2 linked regions of the Homo sapiens genome follow. The protein of the gene in region 1 interacts with the protein of each later gene in a pairwise test. Each region holds a gene or a part of one and is shown in the gene's direction. Other genes may lie near its edges.

The links.
Region 2: the proteins of OIT3 (region 1) and LCE1F interact in binary tests that used the Homo sapiens proteins (3 or more experiments, as listed by UniProt).

What each region holds. Positions count from the first base shown.
Region 1 is NC_000010.11:72,892,012-72,895,931, forward strand, and holds the start of OIT3 (oncoprotein-induced transcript 3 protein precursor), read left to right. Parts: upstream 1-1,727; 5' UTR 1,728-1,787; coding exon 1,788-1,848; intron 1,849-3,920.
Region 2 is NC_000001.11:152,772,606-152,776,525, forward strand, and holds the start of LCE1F (late cornified envelope protein 1F), read left to right. Parts: upstream 1-2,534; 5' UTR 2,535-2,585; intron 2,586-3,744; 5' UTR 3,745-3,766; coding exon 3,767-3,920. UniProt on the Homo sapiens protein: Precursors of the cornified envelope of the stratum corneum.

The sequences.
Region 1 (3,920 bases):
ATGATTATGTAAAAAAATACAATGTGTTAGAAATGCATACTGGTATGTAAATGAAATTGATAGAATGTTAGTAATTATTATAGCTGAGTGTTCATTATTGTTCTTTATACTTTTGTATATATATTTGAAATTTTTCATCATAAAAAGTAAAAAATGAAAGAGCAGGTCAACTAAAAAGGAAAAAATAGAAATAAGGGGGAAAAAACATCTTACCATCCTGGGAATTCTTGTTTACAGAACCAAAGGCTATCTGGTGAAAGTCCTTGACTCCAGCAATCAATCCTGGCAACAAGTCTGGGTTTATCTCATGCACACGTCCTCTGTTTCTCTGCAACACATATGAAGCCCTCAGATGGCTTCCTAGGCGCAGGAAGTTGTGGGGGATTGTTTTTTCTGTTTAAAGCACTGATACTTAGCAACACTATCCTGCAATGAGACAGCAGAGTCATCCATTGCTGCCATCAAACCACAACTTAATAAGTTAATGGTCAAATTGCCTGTGTCCCACTGATGTTAGTAATGAAGTAGCTAACTACAATTTTAGATCAATGGAAACCCCTTGCTTGACCATAAACCCTGTGCTTCTGGAGACCATGTGTACTTTTGTCATTGTCAAAAACCAGTGATTGCCCGAGCTCGGTGGCTCACACCTGTAATCCCAGCACTTTGGGAGGCCAAGGCAGGCGGATCACGAGGTCAGGAGATCGAGACCATCCTGGCTAACACAGTGAAACCCTGTCTCTACTAAAAATACAAAAAAATTAGCTGGGCGTGGTGGTGGGCGCCTATAGTCCCAGTTACTTGGGAGGCTGAGGCAGGAGAATGGCGTGAACCCGGGAGGCGAAGCTTGCAATGAGCCGAGATCACACCACTGCACTCCAGCCTGAGCGACAGAGTAAGACTCCGTCTGAAAAAAAAAATTGTGCTAAGAAGCACATTTTCTCTCCTTTGTCTAAAAGTGAAACTTCAGGAAATTTTGACATTTAATTTTCCAGAGTGTTAATTTAATGAGTAGTTTCTAATTTTAAGCTCCTACCCCATCTTAATGTGAGAATTAGTGAAATAAATAACATTAAACCATTTTTTAATTTTGGGAGTAAAGACAATAAAAATATGAGGTATTGCTGCTTGAATTAGTAAAAACACAATTTAAACCTTGTTTCTTTCAGAAGTTTTGAGGCCAAAGACCGTAATAAAACAAACTCAGGAGCTTATTTCAAGAGAATACTGTCCTTGTCTCATACCTGTCCTTACTACTTTGTTTTGTGTGCTATTATAAGCTCCTCAACCATCTGACCAAGACAGTTGCAGTGATTTGGCTTCATCCATTCTCGTTTAGTGTGCAGTGCTATGGCTGCAACATTGTGAAATCAATTCCTAGAAGTCACAAAGCAAGAATTTGACGTGAAGGGATGTCCCTCATTTAGAATTCCCTTCTGGATAAGATACTGGGGTTTCATTGCAGGGAATTCTTGAGAGAAAACAATAGGAGGATGAGGGATTGTGAGTTGTGTTTTTTTTTTTTTTTCCTAAAGAAAACTATTAATAAAGGAACCCTGTTGACAGTGTAAAGCAGTGCTTCTCTCTGGGGCCAAGGCCAGAGCTGTGGACACCTTATCCCACTCATCCTCATCCTCTTCCTCTGATAAAGCCCCTACCAGTGCTGATAAAGTCTTTCTCGTGAGAGCCTAGAGGCCTTAAAAAAAAAAGTGCTTGAAAGAGAAGGGGACAAAGGAACACCAGTATTAAGAGGATTTTCCAGTGTTTCTGGCAGTTGGTCCAGAAGGATGCCTCCATTCCTGCTTCTCACCTGCCTCTTCATCACAGGCACCTCCGTGTCACCCGTGGGTGAGTCTCATGTCAAGAACTTGGCACAATGCACTTTTTGTTGTGGCAATTTGCTATAATGTACAGATGATTAAGAACTAGATTCCAGTACCTTAAATGCTAGCTCTAGAATCTTGTAAGAAAAGTCCCTAATAATCCTTGAAAATAGATTTCCCGAGAATTTCTGTTACATGTTCCATTTAGCCTCTTGCCTGGACTCCAAAATTTCCATGGATCTGCCATATCCCACAGCTTTCACTAGCTAAAGAGTTCCTGGAGTATGTGTAAAAATAATTCTATCTTCTTTGTGTTCTAGGCACTTTATAGTTCCAACTTGAAGAGCCAAAAAAAAAAAAATTAAAGTTGAGCATAGAATTTTTCTTTAATGAAGGCAAGGGACTGAAAGCTCTGTTGCCATGGGGGGCACAGATCTGGATAAACCAAACTCATTAGTCTTTATGTCAGAAAATAAGACTTTTTGCACAGATCGAGTGAATCTTAAATTGTCTCCCTCCTCAGGCTTGGTGCAAAACTGGCCAGTCAGGCAAAGAAAAGTTTCAATTCCAGTTACTAACAGATTTCTCTCTTGCATCTTTTTCTAGTAGAATGTGAGTACTAACTGGAACAGAGGGTGGGGGTGAGATGGAGAGAACCATCCTTCTTGACACTTTTGAGTAGCTCAGTATCTAATTGACCCTGGCTTATTTCTTCATGGTTGCTCTAGTACCTGAAAGGATACACATTAAAAATAGGCTTGTGGCCAGGCACGGTGGCTCACACTTGTAATGCCAGCATTTGAGAGGCCAAGGCGGGTGGATCACCTGAGGTCAGGAGTTCAAGACCAGCCTGGCCAACATGGTGAAACTCCGTCTCTACTAAAAATACATACACACAAAAAAATTAGATGGTCATGGTGTTGCATGCCTGTAATTCCAGCTACTTGGGAGGCTGAGGCGGGAGAATCACTTGAACTCGGGATGTGGAGGTTGCAGTGAGCCGAGATCGAACCACTGCACTCCAGCCTGGGCAACAGAGGGAGACTCCATCTCAAAAAAATAAAAATAAAAATAAAAATGGTGATTTGAGACCCTAAGGAGACCTGACACCTAAAGGTAATGTGGGATCCTGGAACAGAAAGATATGGGTGGAAACTAAGGGAATCTGAATAAGTGTGGACTTGAGTTAATAATCAGGTATCAATAGTGGGTCATTAATGTGACAAAGGTACCATGCCAATGTGTGGTAAATGTATGGCTAAAGGTAACGTGTCATAACAAGGGAAACTGGGTGTGGGGTATGTGGGATCTCTTTGTCCTATCATCTCAATTATGCTGTAAATCCAAAACTATTCCAAAAAATATGCTTGAGCTACCTGTCATTAATCACCCCCTATCTGCTGCCAATAACTAACCCAAGGGTCGCTCAGAAAGTTGTCCTCCCGAAAATCTCCACTCCCCTTTCTTCCCACCCTTCTCCTTACCTATTCTCCCTCTAGTACCTCCTATATTCCCCATTCTTTCCATATACCATCGCCCTTCCCAGATCTTTTCCTCCAACCCCCAGCTCCTCAAGGATGATATTTGGCTCAATGCCAGAAGCATGATAAAGGGGGAACTTTGGGAACTAGAGCTGGTGTTTGCCCTGAGAGGACAGGGGAAGTGAGAGAAGAGGAAAAGAAGGGATGAGAAAGGGGGAAGCAAAGTGGGGTGATGAGGGAGGAGGATGGAAGAGGATGGAGCAGGAAAGGAGGGGCACTTCCCGACCAAGCTCAGGCACAGGGTCGAAAAGGGGCTGTGATTCAGGGGCGGCTGTCTGCCGGATAGGACCTGGAGGGTTGGAGGACTCAACCCTGGGGCGAAAGGGTGGGGACGCAGACATGGTTCCCTGCCCTTGGCCCTGCGTGGTCCTGGTGGAAGACAGCAGAGGGGCAGCTGGCAAGTGGGCATCTTAGCAAACCATTGAGGAGCTTCTGGCAGGCCAGGAAGCTGTTCTTTTTGAAGCCTTCGCACTGAGATGTATAGATCAGCATTTTAGGATGAATGTGCGCAATACCAGATTCTGGGCTTCACGCTGAGATTAAAAACAGGATATAA
Region 2 (3,920 bases), on another chromosome or scaffold:
GTATTTCTAGTTCTAGATCCCTGAGGAATCACCACACCTACTTCCACAATGGTTGAACTAGTTTACATTCCCACCAACAGTGTAAAAGTGTTCCTATTTCTCCACATCCTCTCCAGCACCTGTTGTTTCCTGACTTTTTAATGATCGCCATTCTAACTGGTGTGAGATGGTATCTCATTGTGGTTTTGATTTGCATTTCTCTGATGGCCAGTGATGATGAGCATTTTTTCATGTGTCTTTTGGCTGCATAAATCTCTTCTTTTGAGAAGTGTCTGTTCATATCCTTTGCCCACTTTTTGATGGGGTTGTTTGTTTTTTCCTTGTAAATTTGTTTGAGTTCATTGTAGTTTCTGGATATTAGCCCTTTGTCAGATGAGTAGATTGGAAACATTTTCTACCATTCTGTAGGTTTCCTGTTCACTCTGATGGTAGTTTCTTTTGCTGTGCAGAAGCTCTTTAGTTTAATTAGATCCCATTTGTCAATTTTGGCTTTTGTTGCCATTGCTTTTGGTGTTTTAGACATGAAGTCCTTGCCCATGCCTATGTCCTGAATGGTATTGCTTAGGTTTTCTTCTAGGGTTTTTATGGTTGTAGGTCTAACACGTAAGTCTTTAATCCATCTTGAATTAATTTCTGTATAAGGTGTAAGGAAGGGATCCAGTTTCAGCTTTCTACATATGGCTAGCCAGTTTTCCCAGCACCATTTATTAAATAGAGAATCCTTTCCCCATTTCTTGTTTTTGTCAGGTTTGTCAAAGATCAGATAGTTGTAGATATGCAGCATTATTTCTGAGGGTTCTGTTCTGTTCCATTGTTCTATATCTCTGTTTTGGTACCAGTACCATGCTGTTTTGGTTGCTGTAGCCTTGTAGTATAGTTTGAAGTCAGGTAGCGTGATGCCTCCAGCTTTGTTCTTTTGGCTTAGGATTGACTTGGCAATGAGGGCTCTTTTTTGGTTCCATATGAACTTTAAAGTAGTTTTCTCCAATTCTGTGAAGAAAGTCATTGGTAGCTTGATGGGGATGGCGTTGAATCTATAAATTACCTTGGGCAGTATGGCCATTTTCACGATATTGATTCTTCCTACCCATGAGCATGGAATGTTCTTCCATTTGTTTGTATCCTCTTTTATTTCCTTGGGCAGTGGTTTGTAGTTCTCTTCCTGAAACTCTAAATACATGGGTGCTAGAATGTTTGATATTATTCCACTGGTCACTGATCATCTGTTCATTTTTTTAATATTTTTCCCTTTCTTCAGTTCAGTTTGAACAATTTCTTCAAGTTCACCGATCTGTTCTTCTGCAACTTATAATCTGCTAAAACCATCCAATAATTCTTTGATGTTATATGTAATTTTGACCATATTTATTTTTCAAATATTGGTTTTTTATTGTTAGATTTTGCATTTGGTTAGTTTTGAGCATGGGAAACTGGGAAATTAAACCCAGGAAATGTGTATTGCAACAAAGCCAATAATTTCAAATTAAATATTGACTATGTCTATTCTTGTCTATACCAACTACACCACTCCAAGTCACAGTTCAAAGCCACCTCATTGGCTGTTCTCTTCTCTTCACCCTTCTCATCTTTATTTTACCTCATCCCTTCAGCTTTTCCTCAGGAAACTGCAAATTCTTTTATGCTATAATTTGGGGCAATATACATCCTTTAGTCCTCTTTTCTTATACCCACTCTGGATCTACCTTCAGAAAGCCCTATTCACTGAGGTACGTAGGAGGAAAAAAAAATGGCCTTTAGTTTTAATAAGAGCCACCTAACTTAAAAGGCACCTGTGACTTTAAAAATTCCCAATGTCCATTAAAATCTCAGGTTTGCCTCTATTTTTCTTTCTATCTATCTATCTATCTATCTATCTATCTATCTATCTACCTATTCATCCATTTCCTAATTATAACCACATGCCACATACTATCTCAGCTACTTCCCCTTTGTTATCTTAATTAATTTGTAAATCCTGCAGAAAAGATATTTCTCTTATTATCTTCATTTAAAACATCAGAAAGCCAATGGCCAAAAATATTGAATACTTTGCCAGGGTCTCCAAGGCCTCTTTTCTCGACTTCTATGATGCACACACATGCCCATGTGCACATGGACAAACCCCATAATGCAGGCATGTGGATTTTTAACCAAGCTATATGGACCCAAAGGTCTAGATGGAAAATTAGTATCTAGAATAGAAGGAAAAATGAGTTGTTTGTGCAGAATTCATAAGTGTGACTACAAGACTGTGAAGAGAGCCATCTTCATAGGAAATAGGCCACGGAGGACTCCAGGAACCATGATGTCCATTTTCACCCACCACAAGCCCCCATTTCCACCAAGCTCTTTCCTAGCTGACAGCAGCTCCCCTGAACACCAATGAAGGACGGTATATGCAGAACTGCCAGTCACCACTCGTCACAAGACCTATGTGGGTGTCGGGAGGCAGGTCCTCTCATGCCCAGGCTCTGTCTCACCGCTGGAGGCAGCACCCAAGGACAGAATAAAAGGGCTCAGGGCCAGAGCATCCCATCCACTCACCTCCTGCGGTGCTGAAGAACCCTGTGCTGCCTGTGATCCTGGTAAGTGTGCCCTGGAAAAAGGAGCAGGGGCTTCCACAGAGGGATGCCCAGGCCAGGGAAGGAGGGGATGGATACTCAGACCAGGGCAGGAGTAGAGTCTAGGCAGGGCCTCAGGGGCCTGGAATTGTGATTGGCAAGGAATGGGGTGGGGGCAGAAAATTGGAAAGAGGAGGTAGAGGGGTGGGGTGGAGTGAGAGAGATTAAGAAGAACTGGTAAGATCTGAAGGGCTGTATGACACAGATTTAGAGGAACCAAATTGTTTTCAGTTGCTCAGTGTGTTTCTCTGGTTTTAGAGAATAAACACATTGGCCACTGGATGTTGCTAGAGTGGGCTGCATAGTGGGAATATAATTTTGGAAATACAGACATACTCACTTTTAGAAAAGATATGCTGAGAACACTGCTACTTAGAGGAAGAAAGGATCAAAGACACCTGTGGATCTTGTTAGATGCCAACAAGAAGATCTGTAGTGGAAAACTGAGTGCACACTGGAGTTTAAAAGCCATGTGACAGTGCCTGGGGACAGGCCTGGGGAGGCAGGATGTGCTAAAGGGCAGAGCCCAGGATGGGAACCAGGGGACCCCGGAACAAATGTGACTGTTAATGAATAACTTTGGGCCAGTGAAGTTACCTCTTTTGGCTTCAGTTTCTTTATTTATATATTGAGTTGGTTGGAACAAATTGACTCCAACATCCTTTGCGGTTATAGTTTTCTCTATTTCTGCAAACTGAAATATATCAGTTCTTCCAATAGAAATTTATTTTGATTTTTCCTTAAAGAGATTTTCATCTCTAAACTGGTCTCAACATTGAACATTTTCAGAATTCTTGGTGATGTGATAGAATGAATGCTGGCCCGGAGCCAATTTATTTCCTGGACTTCTCTCCCACACTTAGGAGCTTTTAATGAGCAGAAACTTTATTTACATATTTGGAGATTATATATTGCATGACAACATCTCAAATAAGGTTTGAAATGAGAATCCATGAATGAAAGCACTTGGTAAACATTGAGAGTGATAAAAACATTAGAGGTGATTTTCCTATGTTTGATATAAGGCTTTCAAAATGAAGGATCTAGAAATAATGCAGAAAGGACAAGAATAGGCAGGGGTGTCCTCTGCCTCCATCTAACTTGCTGTCTGACCCTCCTTCAGCTCCTGAACACCCGCCACCGAGATGTCTTGCCAGCAGAGCCAGCAGCAGTGCCAGCCCCCTCCCAAGTGCACTCCCAAGTGCCCTCCCAAGTGCCCCACACCGAAGTGCCCCCCAAAGTGTCCCCCTAAGTGCCCTCCTGTCTCTTCCTGCTGCAGCGTCAGCTCCGGAGGCTGCT